2 separate regions of the Homo sapiens genome follow, and region 1 is linked to region 2. Evidence: fine-mapped expression QTL. Tissue or cell type: whole blood. Region 2 holds a variant in brackets; the other region holds the start of a gene. All regions are shown on one strand. Distances are between the middles of the regions.

What was found. PIP is the estimated chance that this variant, and not a neighbour inherited with it, causes the effect.
Region 1: SEC14L5 starts here. The variant in region 2 is fine-mapped to the expression of SEC14L5 in whole blood (INTERVAL, PIP above 0.99).

What each region holds. Positions count from the first base shown.
Region 1 is chr16:4,954,402-4,962,505 of GRCh38, forward strand. It overlaps SEC14L5 (SEC14 like lipid binding 5), which reads left to right and starts at 3,929. Exons shown (of 16, transcript NM_014692.2): 1 at 3,929-4,044; 2 at 4,872-4,985. The coding sequence starts at 4,923. RefSeq lists silencers at 3,814-4,023, 3,822-4,117 and an enhancer at 3,921-4,456.
Region 2 is chr16:5,058,087-5,066,190 of GRCh38, forward strand. It overlaps C16orf89 (chromosome 16 open reading frame 89), which reads right to left and starts at 7,870. Exons shown (of 8, transcript NM_001098514.3): 1 at 7,615-7,870; 2 at 4,339-4,488; 3 at 2,200-2,350; 4 at 407-524. The coding sequence starts at 7,822. RefSeq lists a silencer at 1,782-2,076. The variant G/A (reference allele first, on the strand shown) is at 4,230.

The DNA of each region.
Region 1 (8,104 bases), 100 kb before region 2:
CCAGCTGATTTTTTTCTTTTTTTTTTTTTTTTTTGAGATGGAGTCTCACTCTGTTGCCCAGGCTGGAGTGCAGTTGTGTGATCTCAGCTCACTGCACCCTCCACCTCCCAGGTTCAAGTGATTCTCCTACCTCAGCCTCCTGAGTAGCTGGGATTACAGGCATGCGCTACCATGCCTGGCTAATTTTTTCATTTTTAGTAGAGACAGGTTTTTGCCATGTTGTCCAGGCTGGTCTCGAACTCCTGACCTCAGGTGATCCGCCCACCTCGGCCTCCCAAACTGTTGGGATTACCGGCATGAGCCACTGTGCTCGGACCATTTTGCCACAATAAAATTAAGCTGGGGACCGTACCCTGCTTACTGCATCTTCTTCAGCTTCAGAGCCATCCCAGGGCCCATTATGTATTCCAGGGTCTTAACCCCCATTCTCAATGTCACACTGAGCCATTCAACTCAGGACATTCCCAGCAGGATGCCTTCCAGGAACATCTGCCTTTGGATGGGGTCCAGAGTTTTACTCAAACAAATGCATCACTAATGGTTGAATCTTCTCTGGCAGTGGCCCATCTGCTGGGAAGACATTCAGAGACATGAGGTGGTTTCTGGGGTTCCCAAAACCCACCTCCACAAAAGGCAGCATTGGCTGGGTCATTCTTGCAGGGCAGGTGGGAAGCAGCAGATAGAGGCTAAAGATCCTGCCCTGGGACTGAGTTCATGCCCAGCACCCCTGGGGAATCAGCCTATCCTTGCAGCGCCTTCTTGTCCTGGAGCCAGGGTGCCTGGAGATCTTGCAGTTCAGGGCTTGGAAATCACATCTTCCCGGAGCATCAGCTGCAGCTCTAGGAGAAGAAGTCATTGGAGAACGAGAGTCCTGGGTATGAGTTCCTTACTAGCTGTGTGGCCTTGGGCAAGTTATTCAGTCTCTCTGTGCCTTGTGCCTTAGTTTCCCTACGTGTAAGATGAGGATTAAAATAGTTTTGACTGTATATGGGCTTTTAATTGAGATGAAAGCCACGTAACAGAAAATTAATCATTTTAATATTGTGGCCCCAATTCAGTGGCATGTGCATTTGCAACGTTGTGCAACCACCACCTCTATCACATTCCAAGACATTTTCATTGCTCTGGGGTTGCTTTGAGGATTAAATGCATTCGTGTTTGTAAAGCTTTAGAATGGTGCTAGGTATAGTAAGCGCCAATGGAGTGTCAACAAGTGGTAGGAATAATTAGTAGAACAGTAATAATAGGCAACTGGGCCAGGTGTGGTGGCTCATGTCTGTAATCCCAGCACTTTGGGTGGCTGAGGCGGGTGGATCACCTGAGGTCAGGAGTTTGAGGCCAGCCTGGCCAACATGATGAAACCTGTCTCTACTGAAAATACAAAAATTAGCCAGGTGTGGTGGCAAGCGCCTGTAATCCCAGCTACTCGGGAGGCTGAGGCAGGAGAATTGCTTGAACCTGGGAGGCGGAGGTTGTAGTGAGCCGAGACTGCGCCACTGCACTCCAGCCTGGGCAACAGAGCAAGACTCCACGTAAAAAAAAAACCCCAAAACCCAAAAAAAGCTGGAGTGAGTGTTGGTGGCGTTATTAATTCCCTTCCCTGGGGCTGGAGGAGGAGGGAGTGGGGTTCTCACTCCCCTCCAGGCCCCAGTTTCCACTTTGAGCTCTCTGTACCCGCAGGGCTGTCACACCTCTGTCTCCCACGCAGTCATTGTCCTCCCTCAATGTTGGGCAGCAGGAGAGGCGGACTTAACGCCTTTCGTGGTGGTAACAGCAGCTAACGGTGTTAACGTTCACTTTGCTCTGTGGCGATGCCTGGGCAGAGCTGGGCATTTCCTGGATGAGCCCGGGTTAGGACAGTCATCCCTGGATCCCATGTCCCCCACCTACTCACCCTTGTGTTACTCCAGGAGCCATGGGCTATCATTTGCTGCCACCTTGCGACAGGGATGGGAACTTTGTGTCCCATTTCCGCCCTTGATTACCTAAGCCAAGAGTCTGCTGGGCACCTGCTGCCTGCCTGCCAGGTCCCCAGTAAGATCCTTCCCAACATGCGGGCAGCTGAATAAGGCAGCCACTGCCCCTGCCCTCAGGGAGCTCACAGTCTCCTGAGAGAGACCTCCAGGAACCCACAGATATATAAAACGAATAAATGCAATATTAGAATGTGATGCAGGCTAGGAAGGGAAGAGAGGTGATTTTCACAGGGTGCAGTGACATACTTGAAATATATCAGGGGTTGTCCATCTCCCTGGCCACCTCTGACTTCCCCTGCTTGAAGGGGTGAATTCACCCCACGGTGGCACGTAGTAGGTGCTCAGTAAATGTTGAATGAGTGAATACATGGATGACAGCACTGTCCAGAGCCAATTTCTTGGGTCTTGTAGGCTAAACAGATGAGGAGTGGCAAGGCAGGACTTCTGGGAGCAAGGTTGGTCCCCTGGGAGTCCTGGGAGGGCTGAAAGGGGTTAAGTGTGAGTTAAAATGAGAGTGATGGACAAATGTCACTCTCCCAAGGGAGGCCCCCTTACTCCCTGTTTTATTTATTTATTTACTTATTTATTTTGAGACCGAGTCTTGCTTTGTTGCCCAGGCTGGAGTGCAGTGGCCAGGTAACAGCTCACTGCAGCTTTGAACTTCTGGGCTCAAGGGATCCTCCTGCCTCAGCCTCTTGAGTAGCTGGGACCACAGGCACGTGCCAACACGCCTGGCTAATTTTTTTTTTTTTTTTTTGCGACGGAGCTTTGTTCTTCTTGCCCAGGCTGGAGTGCAGTGGCGCAGTCTCGGCTCACTGCAACCTCCGCCTCCTTGATTCAAGCGATTCTCCTGCCTCAGCCTCCCGAGTAGCTGAGATTACAGGTATACGCCACCATGCCCGGCTAATTTTGTATTTTAGTAGAGACGGGGTTTCCTCATATTGGCCATGCTGTTCTCGAACTCCTGACCTCAGCTGATCTGCCTGCCTTGGCCTCTCAGTGTGCTGGGATTACAGGCGTGAGCCACCGCGCCCTGCCTAAACTAAAAAAAAATTTTTTTGTAGAGATAGGTTCTTGCTATGTTACCCAGGGTGGTCTCCAACTCCTGGGTTCAAGCGGTCCTCCCGCTTCCGCCTCCTAAAGTGTTTGGATTACAGGCGTGAGACATGGCGCCCGGCCTCTTACCTGTTTTAAATTGTCCTTTCTCTCCGCTGGCTCCTTGAGCCCCTTTCCTGCTTATTTTTCTCTCGTTAGAGTTTTTCACTACCTCACACATCATATATTTGCCTTATTTATTGAGTGTCTGTCTCCCCACCGTAGTATAAACTCCACGAGGGCAGGGATTCGTGCGTGTGGCTCACCGGCGGCTCTCCAGCGCCTGGACAGGGCTGACCCCCAGCAGGCGCTCTGTGAAGGTGTGCAGAGTGGGCGAAGGTGCATGCGCGGGCCGTGGGGCGGGGACAGGTGGAGGAGCCAGTCAGACCCAAGTGCAGCGGGACGAGGGCGAGGTTAATCTGAGCAAGAAAAGCGTAAATTCTGCTTATCTACAAATGTAAACAGTACTGTCGGCCAGACGCAGGGTCCGGGGCGGGTCGGCCCGGACTCAGGGTCTGCTTGGAGGCAGAGCTAGATTAGGGCGGGGTCGTCCTGTGGCCTACCATTCCCCGAGGCTGAGGGCCTTGGAGGGCGGGGCCAGTGAAGGGGGAGGGGACTTCCTGAGGTGTGACCAATCTAGAGAAAGGACTGGGCTGAGGGCGTGGTCAAACAAGCGACATCTAAAAATAAGGGGCGGGGCTAGAACCAGGGGGAGTTCGCCTGGGGCGGGGCCAGAGTGGGGCGGGACCAGTTAGGGGGCAGGGCCAACCTGGGCGGGGCCATGGCCGGGGACGTGGGCGGGACCAGGTCAGGGGCGGGGCCAGGCCAGGATCTCCGCTGTCCCGGGTCCTGGAGCTCTCTCGGCCCGGCAGGTTTCGCTCCCGCCCCTCCGGCCTTCCACAGCTGTCCTGGCCGCAGGGTGTTCAAGGCGGGACACACCAGGCTAGAGATCCGCGATCGGGCCCCGCCTCAGGTACTGCGCTCCAGGCCAGGCGGGCGCGGGTAAGCGCTCAGCTCCCGAGCCAGGCGGGCTTCCAGGGCACTTCCCCTAGGCTGCATTCCCAAAGGCTCCCGAGGGCGAGGGTGAGCAAAGCTGCGGGGACCTGTGTGTGCATGCGTGTGCGATTGCCTCTACGTGTGTGTACGTGTGTGTGCATGTGCGCACGGGTGTGTGTGCGTGTGTGCACGTCTGTGCACACCAGGGGAATTGCGTGCGTGGAGCTGGGCAGGTGCGTGTTTCAGGGTGTGTGTGCAAAGTTGGAGGCGTGTGCAAAAGCAGTCCCGTGTGGGAGGGAAACCTGCGTGTGTACATGTGTGTGATAGAGACAGTGCCTGTGAAATGTGGTGAAGGCTGTGTGTGTATGTCAGGGTGTCTGGGAGGAAAATGGGAGGGCAGGTGCAAGGAGACTCGGGGGTGGGCTGTAGGCCAGCAAGTCTGTGGCAAGCTGCGGGGTGCATGCGTGAATAGAACCGTGGGAGTGTAAGAATTGCAAATGTGTGTGTGTCTGTGTGGGTGGCCGTAAGGCTTCTGGGGGCCCTCAGTGTGAAGGGGTGGGGGTAGAGGAAAGTTTGGGGGTGCTGACTGCTCTTGGAAGGCTGAGCGTGGTCTGGGGCCATGGCTAATGACAGGGAAGCTGTTGGGGCTTGGCCTGGAGTAATTTGGGGGGAATATCAGCCTTCTCAATTTGAAGGCTGGGGAGCTGTGTGGGTGGGGCCAGGGGCTGCCCCTTACACTTGGTGGGTGGTGTCCCTGCTTCCCGAGGTGGGAGCTGCAACCTCACCAGTCACTCCTCGCCCCAGGCTCTGTGCACACCCCTGCCTGGTGACCTCCATTGGTGCTCCAGCGTGAACATGGTGCAAAGATACCAGTCTCCTGTCCGAGTCTACAAGTACCCGTTTGAGCTGGTCATGGCGGTGAGTGACTCCTGATTCTTGGGCCCCCATGTGACAGTTGGAGGGGCTTGAGATCAGCTATGGCGGTAGGAAGACGGAGCTCCTTAGACTCCCAGATCAGAAGGAATTAGTGAGTTACTCAGCTGACCTGGTGGGTTTAACTTCTATCCAGTGACCTCTCTGTCCAACCATCCTATCCTCGGCCCAGTGACCAAAACACAAAGTCTTTCTTCCTTCTCCTTGTTGAAGCTGACCTGCTCCCTTACTTTAGACTCTCCTGATAGAAAACAAAGGTATCAGGGGCCAAGCCACTGCTGTCATTTCATATAATGGCATATCACAGTGATAAATGGAATGGTGGTGATAATGACAACAGCTGTTTATTGAATGTTTACAGCACTGTCTTAACAGATGATGTTTCTTCCAATTCCCGATAGCTGTTATTTTCCCATGTAACCTCCATGAAACTGAGGCTTTGACAGGTGAAGGGATGACACTAAGTTCTGTATCTACGCAGAGGTGGAGTCGGGGCTGAGATCCCCACAAAGGAGACTCTAGAACCTCACATTTGACCACAGAGCCCTCCTTCTGCTCACAGACCCCCTTCCCTCCCCTTTAAGGAAGCTGACACTGGGACGAGAGAGAGAATGAGTGGGTAGGTTTGCTTTGTGATGTACTCTGTGTTGTGCAGCAAGTCAGTTGGAGGCCTAGAATTGGCTGCCAGATCCTTGGCCCCCAGGATCACTGGTCTTTTCACCCTGGGGGCAGAAGCTGGACATAGGTGGATGTGGAATTCCTTCTTGGCTGCATCCCTCTGCCTCTGAGCACTTCACTTCCCTGCTCAGTAACATGGGGACAATGCTACAAGGTTGCGGGGAGGAGTAAATGAGATAGTTCTTGGTGCTCCTTGCTGTGTGCCGGGCACACAGTAGGAGCTCACAAAATATGCTGTCGCTGTTATTACACCGAAGTCTTGTAAATTAATGTATTGAAAGTGTAAGAAACATTAGCATCCACCCCCATCTGTCCCACCCCAGCACTGACTGCTTAACCCCAGCCTTCTATCCAGGGACTTTCATATCTCTTGGTGGCTGTGTGTGCCTGTGTGTCCAGTCCTGTCTTATTCTATGAATCTACATGCGTATATGTTTATTGTCACACAGAGGATTTAAAAGCATCACCAAAATCATCCACATACCTTGTGCTGTTACAGGCAGATGGTTCTAGGACAGCAAAGAGGCAGGAACTGGCTTAGGGTCATATTCTAGCTCCCCAATTGACGAGCTGAGTGACTGTGGGGCAAGTCACTTCACCTCCATGAGCCTCCACTCCCCATCACCAATGGGAATCTCCTGGCTTCCAAATCCTGGTGTCATGCTGTGGATTAAATGAGTCAATGTGTATAAAGCTCCTGGTACGGGGCTGACGCAGATCAAATGCTCACTGAGATCCAGCTATGATCGTTACTGTTTTTGCAAGTGCCTGAGTGACTTTGCTTCTGCGTAATGGGAGTGGAACACCAGGGGATGGTGAAGAGATCCAGGGACGTGAATTCAGATGCTTTAGGGTTCTGCTGTGCTCTGCCATGCTCTGGTTGTATGTTTTTAGAAAGTTGCTGAACTTAAGCCGGGTGCAGTGGCTCACACCTGTAATCCCAGCGCTTTGGGAGGCCGAGGTGGGTGGATCACAAGGTCAGGAGATCAAGACAATCCCGTGTAACACGGTGAAACCCCAACTCAACTAAAAATACAAGAAAAATTAGCCGGGCGTGGTGGCGCGCACCTGTAGTCCCATCTACTCGGGAGGCTGAAGCAGGAGAATCTCTTGAACCCAGGAGGCAGACGTTGCAGAGAGCCGAGATTGCGCCGCAACACTCCAGCATGGGTGACAGAGCGAGACTCCGTCTCAACAACAACAACAGCAACAACAACAACAACAAAGTTGCTGAACTTTTCTGAGCCCCATTTTCTTTTACTTTTTCCAGACTGAGTCTCACTCTGTTGCCCAGACTGGAGTGCAGTGGTGCCATCTTGGCTCACTGCAACCTCTGCCTCCCAGGTTCAAGCCATTCTCGTGCCTCAGCCCCCTGAGTAGCTGAGATTACAGATGCACACCACCATGCCCAGGTAATTTTTGTATTTTCAGTATAGACGGGGTTTCATCACGTTGGCCACGCTGGTCTCGAACTGCTGACCTCAAGTGATCCACTAGCCTCGGCCTCCCAAAGTGCTGGGATTACAGGGGTGACTCACTGCATCCGGCCCCTATTCATATAGCCTTAAGTGCTATATTCATGGGCATGGCTTATTTTCAAGTGCAATGATTGTAAATATTTTCAGAACCCTAAACGTGACAAATTAAGTTGGAATTTATTAAGCACATGCAGTAGATGGTTTTCCATCCTATAGTTAATGTGTCTCAGATTCATGGCAGAGAACCATGGGTCCTTGGACTGTCAGAGAAGGGTGGGGACAGTTTCTCTCTTCTTATGAATGAATGAACAAGTGCTTGGGTCTTAGAACATGTGAGCTGCCAGAGCCTTAAACTAAGGGTGATTATTTATGTTTATCGACCACTTATTGTCACTTGGTAGGACTGGGCCCTGTGCGAGGCAAACAGACACACACACACACAATCACTTTTCATCTTCATGACAACCTTATGAGGCGCATATAGGCATACAGTCATCCCCATTTCACAAATCAAGAAAATGGGGGCTGGGTGCTTATTCATAGAATAAGACAGGACTGGACACACAGTCCTGCACTCGAGCCTGGGCAACAGAGCGAGACTCTGTCTCAAAAAAAAAAAAAAAAAGAAAAAGAAAAAAAGAAAAGAAAACAAAAACAACAGAAAAACTATATGAATAGCACTAGTAATGTACTCGCATTGCCTGTATTGGGTATGTTAAACATATTTTGTAAGCTTCAGGTTCCACAAATGAAGGCACGGCTCCATTTACTCCCTTCGCTGTTGAGTCTCTAGGTACTGACACCTGTGGGTAGAGTGAAAAAAAGGCTTTCAAATCTATATTATCTGTGGCCAGGTATGGTGGATCATGCCTGTAATCCCAACACTTTGGGAGGCTAAGGCGGGCGGACCACCTCAGGTCAGGAGTTCGAGACGAGCTTGGCCAACAT
Region 2 (8,104 bases):
GCAGACAGAACTACACTGCCATGAGCCCTTTTTCATTTATTTCTTTTTTCTTTTTTTTTGAGGCAGAGTCTTAGTCCATTGCCTGGGCTGGAGTGCAGTGGCGCAATCTTACTCACTGCAACCTCCGCCTCCCGGGTTCCAGTGATTCTCCTGCCTCAGCCTCCTCTTGTAGCTGGGATTACAGGTGCACGCCACCACGTCCAGCTAATTTTTTTTTTGTATTTTTAGTAGAGAATGGGTTTCACCATGTTGGCCCAGCTGGTTTTGAACTCCTGGCCTCAAGTGATCTGCCTGCCTTGGCCTCCCAAAGTGCTTGGATTACAGGCATGAGCCACCACGTCCGGCTGCCCCTTTTCCTTTTTCCTTCCCCTTCCCCTGGCACGGCGGGGGCTCCCTGGGCACTCACCATTCTGGCCCAGAGGAAGAAGAGCAGTTGGTGGGACAGGCAGTAGCCTGAGCAGCCGGGCTTGGTCATGAGGCTCCTGCAGAGGTCTGAGAGGCCGCAGGGCTCGCTGCTGTCCGTCCTGGGGGAAAGTGGTTCCAAGCTGTTAAGGATGGAGCGCTGACTCTGCCCTGCGTCTTCCCAGCCCCCTAGTTGTAGTTGTTGGAACTCCCAGTAGATTCCAGACACCCAGCTGGGCATGGGGGTTGACAGAGACAATACAGCAGTCCTGCATTTTGATTTGCTAAATCTGGCTGCCCTAGCCCAGGAAAGATGACGCTAGAGCTATTCTGGGGTTGAGGAAGCCACCAAGGCTGAAACTTCCTATTGCTCCATGGGCCAAATCACATCTTTTCCAGCCCCGAACAGTGGGTACTTGAACCCAGACCACTTGGAATCTGGGCCCAACATGCTTATTCCTCCTGCACCAGCCAGGCGCGGTGGCTTACACCTATAATTCTAGCACTTTGGGAGGCTGAGGCAGGCAAGTCACCTGAGGTCAGGAGTTCGAGACCAGCCTGGCCAACATGGTGAAACCCTGTCTCTACAAAAAATACAAAAATTAGCTGGGTGTGGTGGCACGTGCCTGTAATCCCAGCTACTCGGGAGGCTGAGGCAGGAGAATCACTTGAGAATCACTTGAATCCGGGAGGCAGAGGTTGCAGTGAGTTGAGATCGCATCACTGCACTCCAGCCTGGGAGACAGAGCGAGACTCCATCTCAAAATAAATAAATAAAAATAAAATAAAATAAAGTAAAAATAAAAAATACACACACAAATACAAAAATTAGCCGGGCATGGTGGCGCACATCTGTAATCCCAGCTACTCAGGAGGCTGAGGCATGAGAATCACTTGAACCTGGTAGGAGGAGCTTGCAGTGAGCCGAGAAAGAACACACCACTGCACTCCAGCCTGGGGGACAGTGAGCCTCTGTCTCAAAAAAATAAAAATAAATAAAAATTTTTAAAAAGCAGAGGTCCTTGGCTGGGGCCCAGCCCCTCCGTGAATCCAGCTGTGTCCTGGCCTAAGCACTGCTCTGAAGGATGCTGACAGGATGCGGCCTGGGCACCGGCTGCCCACTTTGCCCATGGGCCCTGCACCTAGGGCTGCCCTGGGGCCTTGTTCCAAGCCCACCAAACACCAGGATAAAATGAGGAGCCCAGCTAGGCTCAGTCCTGTCTTCCTGGAGCTGCATCCTCACTGGGGATGGGGACAGGCTCATAATACAAATGTAAATTGCATCTGTGGCTATAAGAGGTGCCAGGAGAGGCCCTCACAGGAGGTCTGCTATGTGCTGGGGTCAGAGATAGGATGGGGTTGGAGGTAGGATGCTGGCGCCAGCCCTGGAGGATGGGCAGACTTCCTGAGGCCCAGGGGGTGGAGTGGGTGGGGTGGGGGGAGCAAAGTCTTTGAAGTGGGAGGAAGCCTTGGAGAGTCTGAAAAGAGGCCTCTAGGGGCCTGGAGACTTGGAACTGCGGAGAGGAATTGGGGATTTGTCCTGGGGCCTGGAGGTGGTGTGTTCAGCCATGGCTGCTGGAAGGCCTGCTGTGGCATGGGAGGCCAGCGGGCGGCTGGAGCAAGGGGGACCCTGCTGGAGTAGGAGAGGGCAGTACCCGGCAGCTACAGGGAGCTGCACCTGTGTCTGCACAAACCCCTGGCTTCAGCCCTAGGGCTTGGAGAAGGAGGAGCGGGACAGGACCAGCTGAGAACTAGTGCGTTTGGGTTTCCAGCAAATAGGGCAAGTGCAGGGCCCACCCGGTTCCCAGCAGCTGCACCAGGCACACGTCACTTCTCTCCTCTGAGAATGAGTCCTGGGGCCCGAACGTGGGGTACACCAAGGAGGCATCAGTGTGGATCCAGGCATGTGGGAGCTTCCAAAACCCGGGCTGGAGGGTCAGCTGGAACTCTGGCAGAGAGGACAGATAGATGGGGTGGGGTGTGGGGGTGACCCAGGAGCAGTGGGCCACCCTGGTGTCCCCACCTCCTCCTGCAGCCCTGCCCACTGGCAGGTGCAGCTCAGGGCTCTAAGCCCTGTCCCCTGGTCCCAGATTGGGTTTGAAACACTCAAGAAAGCTCCTTTTGCTTATAAAACCATTTTTTCCCCTAATCAATAGGAACAGTGATGGGACGGGATTTGACTAAACCCACTGCATCCCATGGAAACCCCAGATAAATAAAAGGTTTAGTTTCCCAGGTGCAGGGCTCACGCCTGTCATCCCAGCACTTGGGGAGGCTAAGGAAGGAAGATCGCTTGAGGCCCAACGTTCAAGACCAGCCTAGGCAACATAGCAAGACTCTGTCTCCACAAAAATAAAAAAAGTAGCCAGGTGTGGTGGTGTGCACCTGTAGTCCCAGCTGAGGCAGGAAGGTTGCTTGAGTCTAGAAGTTGGAGAATGCAGTGAGCTATGATCAGCCTTTTTTTTTTTTTTTTTTTTTTTTAAGAGGCAGGGCCAAGAGCGGTGGCTCACGCCTATAATCCCAGCACTTTCGGAAGCCAAGGCGGGCGAATCACTTGAGGTCAGGAGTTCAAGACCAGTCTGGCTAACACAGTGAAATCCCATCTCTACTAAAAATACAAAAAATTAGCTGGGTGTGGTGGCAGGTGCCTGTAGTCCCAGCTACTCAGGAGGCTGAGGCAGGAGAATAGCATGAACCCGGGAGACAGAGCTTGCAGTGAGCCGAGATTGCACCACTGCACTCCAGCCTGGGTGACAGAGCAAGACTCCATCTCAAGAAAAAAAAAAAAAAAAAAAAGCCGGGCGTGGTGGCGCATGCCTGTAGTCCCAGCTACTTGAGAGAGGCTAAAGCAGGAAAATCACTTGAACCCAGGTTGCAGAGGTTGCAGTGAGCTGAGATCGCACCACTGCACTCCAGCCTGGGCGACAGGGTGAGACTCTGTCTCAAAAAAAAAAAAAAAAAAAAAAAAAAAGAGAGACAGAGTGAGACACTGTCTCAAAAAAAAAAAAAAAAAAAACCCCCCCAAAAAAAAAAACAAGTGGGGAGGTGGAATTAGTGGGGAGGTGATATTGGTAGACCTTTTGGTTTGGTGAGAACGTGGAGCTCTTAACTAAACAGATGCCCAGTCATAGATATCTTTAAGATGACATAGGTGGGGACAGTGTTAGGGACCAGGCCTGGGAGAGGGTGGGGGACCTTAAAATTGGAAAGGTCAGCATGGGCTATGGTCCCTGCGGCTGGACTGCCGTGTGAGCATGAAGCGTGGCCTGGCTACCTCCCCGCTCACCCCCATGCATCTGATGGGAGTGGGGAGCAGAGGGGACAGGGTTGGAGCAGCATGATGGACTGGTTATTTGTGCCCCGCCCTTGCCATCCAGGAACAACTCAGCCAAACTTATTAGATGGGACCTTTTGCAGGGTCACTCGGGGCTGGTGAGGAGAGAGAGACTCTCAGTGGTCATAAGGCATGAGAAAGATAAACCCCACTGTTTTGAAAAATAGTGTGTGGACAACTTCGGGAATTTCTACTGACATTTAATGAAGTGGATTAAAATAATTTGGTGACATGGGACACTACTGTTTGCTGTGCAAAGGGTTGAATTGCCTTTTGGATACTCTCCCCTCTGGGACAGCCCAGCCTCTCCGCTCTAGTCTAGGACCAGGACCTCCAGCTTGTGCGTGCGCTGAATGCTTGAGAGAAGACACCCTGCTTCCTCTGCACACCTCTGTGTGGGTAGGAGAGCCCGTCAGAGTCTGAAGTCAAGGATGACCGCACGTCCCCAGGGCTCGTCTGTGGCTTGCTCAGCAGACAGGTCCAAGTTGGTTAC[G/A]GACTGTCCCAGCCCAGCCTTGCCCCAGGAGAGCCCACGCTGGGTTATTTCAGTCAATATCCCCATAGGCGCTATTCCTGAGGGAATGGGACACCCTGCGTGTGCTCACCTCTTAGGTACTTGGGATCACTCAGCTTGAGGTAGTGGAGGGATCTCTGGATGGCAGCCTCCAGCTTCTCCCCCAGCATCCCCACGCGCAGGCTCAGCGGCTGCAGCAGGGGCTCCTGGGCCCACTTCTCCCGGACACTTTTTAGCTGCTCTGGAAGGGAACAGAGTTAATTCATTCAACTATTTGGAATCGGGACCTTTTTTTGCCTTGGAACAAGAAAAAAAAATGCCCCAAAGTCTAATGCTTCCTGGGAGCCTCTCTGCCTTCTCCAGCACTCAGAGGGGAAGGATTTACTGAGCTGACTGGAAATGAGGCCAGGATGGGGGTGATCTGGGCAATGAGAATGGGTGTCAGAGTAGTAGAAGGTGGTGGCTGAGAGCTTGGTTTCTGGAGGCGGGCCTGGGTTCAAATCTTTGATACTTGAGGTTCAAATCCTCAAATCCTTGACTCATATACTTTCTTGTTGGATGGCCAGAGAAAGGTTGCAGGGTAGAGAACCACTGTGTACAGTTGAGCAGGTTGTACACTGCACAAGGGCAACACACATTTGGATCATGGGTTTGTATATGCAGTAAGACAATTTCCCAGCAGATGGCTGTCAAGTGACTTCAGGAAGGAAGTGCCTTTTTCTAATTCCCACAGAGGTACCCTGTGGGCTAGCAGTGGCTTTGTTGAGGTGGGAGACAATGGTGAAGATCCAGAGGTGGCCAGAAATTGGGGAGACATGAGTGAGAACATCCGAGTGAGAGCATTCACGCAGGGCTGAGAGGGCGAGGGATGAAGTGGGGCAGCTGCAGTCAGGTAGGAACCTTGTTAGGGAGGATGGGCTAGGTTAAGAAGGATGCTGAGGTAGTCCTCCAGGGCGACCGGCTCTGGCACGCCCCCTCTGCTCAGCCCCCTCCATGGGCAAACCCGCAGGGAAGAAGTAAAGGCTTGGGAGTGCTGACAGGGAGGGGCTCCCTGTGTGTCAGAGTGTCTCCTCCTGTGATTGCACCGGGTCTACAAAGTCCAATAGGACAGGGGTCCCCAACCTCCAGTCCATTACTGGTCTATGGCCTGTTAGGAATGGGGCCGCACAGCAGGAGGTGAGTGGTGGGTGAGCGAGCTAAGCTGCATCTGTAATTTACAGCCACTCCCCATCATTCGCTGTCACTACCGCCTGAGCTCCGCCTGCTGTCAGATCAGTGGCTGCATTCGATTCTCACAGGAGTGTGAACCCTGTTGTGAATTGCACATACGAGGGATCTAGGCTGCACACACCTTATGAGGATCTAATGCCCGATGATCTGAGACCGTCTCCTATCACCCCCAGACGGGATTATCTACTTGCAGGAAAACAGTCTCAGGGCTTCAACTGATTCTACATTGTGGCGAGTTGTATAATTATATATTATAACATAATAACAATAAACAGAAAGTGGGCTGGGCACGGTGGCTCACGCCTGTAATCCCAGCACTTTGCGAGGCCGAGGCAGGTGGATTACTTAAGTCCAGGAGTTCAAGACCAGCATGGCCAACATGGTAAAACCTCATCTCTACCAAAAATACAAAAATTAGCCGGGCGTGGTGGTGGGTACCTGTAGTCCCAGCTATTTGGGAGGCTGAGCAGGAGAATCGCTTGAACCTGGAGGTGGAGGTTGCAGTGAGCTGAGGTGGCACCACTGCACTGCAGCCTGGGCGACAGAGCGAGACTCCGTCTCAAAATAATAATAATATAATAATAATAATAAATAAAAAATAAAGTGCACAATAAATTTAATGCACGTGAATTGTCCTGAAACCCTCCCCTCCACCTCAGTCCATGGAAAAATTGCTTTCCACAAAACCAGTCCCTGGTGTCAAAAAGGTTGGGGACCACTGCAATGGGACGTAGACCCTGCCCACTGGGAGCTCATTGTTTAGAGAGACACAGGTGAGGAAGCCGTTGCTGCTAGTCAAGGATGCTCAATGCTTTGATAGATGGAAACAGTAATGGCTGACAAGTACTGAGCCCCACTGGTAAGATGACATATACACACAATCTCATGAGACACATGTGCATGATCGTGTGATACTCCCATCCACCAGCTGCAGCTGAAGGATGAGGAAACCAAAACTCCACGAGAGCAGTTAACTCAGTGCCATGCAGCCAGTTGGGGGAGATCCAGGATTTGAACCTGGGCAGTCCAGTTCTGAAGCTCTGTTCTAGGCACTGGCACTGCCTTTGCTCCCTTCTGGGCACAGTTCACGGGTGTGGTTGTATTAAGCACTGAATTCCTAGGGAATCTGTTATGGAGCAAGATTATTGAGAGGAGAAGGGGCAGTGGATGTGGGATGTGGCGTGGGTGGAGAAGCCGGGCTCACTGCAGCTGCCAAGGAGTGGGGACCCTGGTCTGAGGCTGTTAGGTGGGGCCGCTTTCCCAGTGAATGCTGCCCAGTCATGATTAAGAGAACCCCCTCCCTTCTTTGCTAAAAGAGGATAATAATAATGGGTGTAACCTCAGGGATGACGGGGAGAGGGCACTGAAGTACCCCATGCAATGCACCTGGGTTGTGCCCACATTGAGCAGATACTTAGTGAACTACAGCTTTTGCTATCACATGCGCCCCAGGAAGCACCCAGCCCTGTGGGAGCCACCTGTGTGCTTGTGTGTGTGTGTGATATGCTTGTGTGCATGCGTGCATGCGTGCTTGTGTGTGTGATGTGCATGTGTGTGTGCGTGCGTGCATGTGTGCTTGTGTGTGTGTGCATGATGTGCGCATGTGTGTGTTTACCTTGGCCTGTCTCCAGCCCCCTTCTTGGGGATCTTATAGCTCTCAAAGCTAAACAAACACTTGACTGTTTTTGCAGAACCTTCAGGAGACTTTGGCTGCAAGTGGAGGAAGTGGGGTGGGAACCCGATCTTGAGGGTCCTCAGTTTTGTCCACAGCCACCTCATTCAAGGGGAGGGGTCTTCCCACAAATATCTGTTAACGGGGCACTCTCCCTGCTCCCCTTGTTCGTGGCGTTGTGAGGAGGGGCTGTCAAATGGATCATTTCATTCTGAGAAAAAGATAATTCCCAAATCCCTTCCCATGTTGCCTTTAAATCTTTCCTACTTCTAAAAAATTGCGTAACAGTTAGCTGGGCCACAGCCGCCAGGAAGATCCAGCCCCTGGCCTCCTCTCTCCTTATAGCCGAGGCAGGCTATACTGGGGCCAGGAGTCTGCCAGGTCCCAGGCGTACAGAGCAGGGCAGGGGACAAAGCTGAGAGCTAGCTTCCCAGTGTCCAGCCAGAGGAATTGGGGCTCACTCACCTTCCAGCACTCGGACCCCCACCATGCCATCCAGGTTGATTTCAGGCAGCCTCTGTTCTAGGAAGACGGTGGCTCTCTCCAGCGCAGACAGGATCAGGTCTGCAATGGTGGCTTTACTTTCAGCAGTGTCCAGCCCAGGCAGTGAGGAGGACCACAGCGGTGGCAGTGCTGTCAGTAAGAGCAGGAGCAGCAGCCCCAGGCTGGCCATGGCCGGCCTCTGCTCACTGCTGGTCACACGCTCAGCACCCTGAGCTCTGGCCAAGCCCAGACTGCCTCTGCACGCCCTCCTCCCACCTCCTTCCCACCTCCCCCTGGCAGACATGAAGACAAGTGGCCCGGCAGGGCTGCCAAGAAGCCTGGGGTGGCCTGGGCAAAGGACTCTGGGAAGGGTGGCTGCAGGGGGATGACGGTTAGGCAGCGGAGGTTAGGCCAGTCCTGGGCGTAGAGCCTGCTGTCCACGGGATGCTGGGGAGAGGGCTGCCCGCCCTGT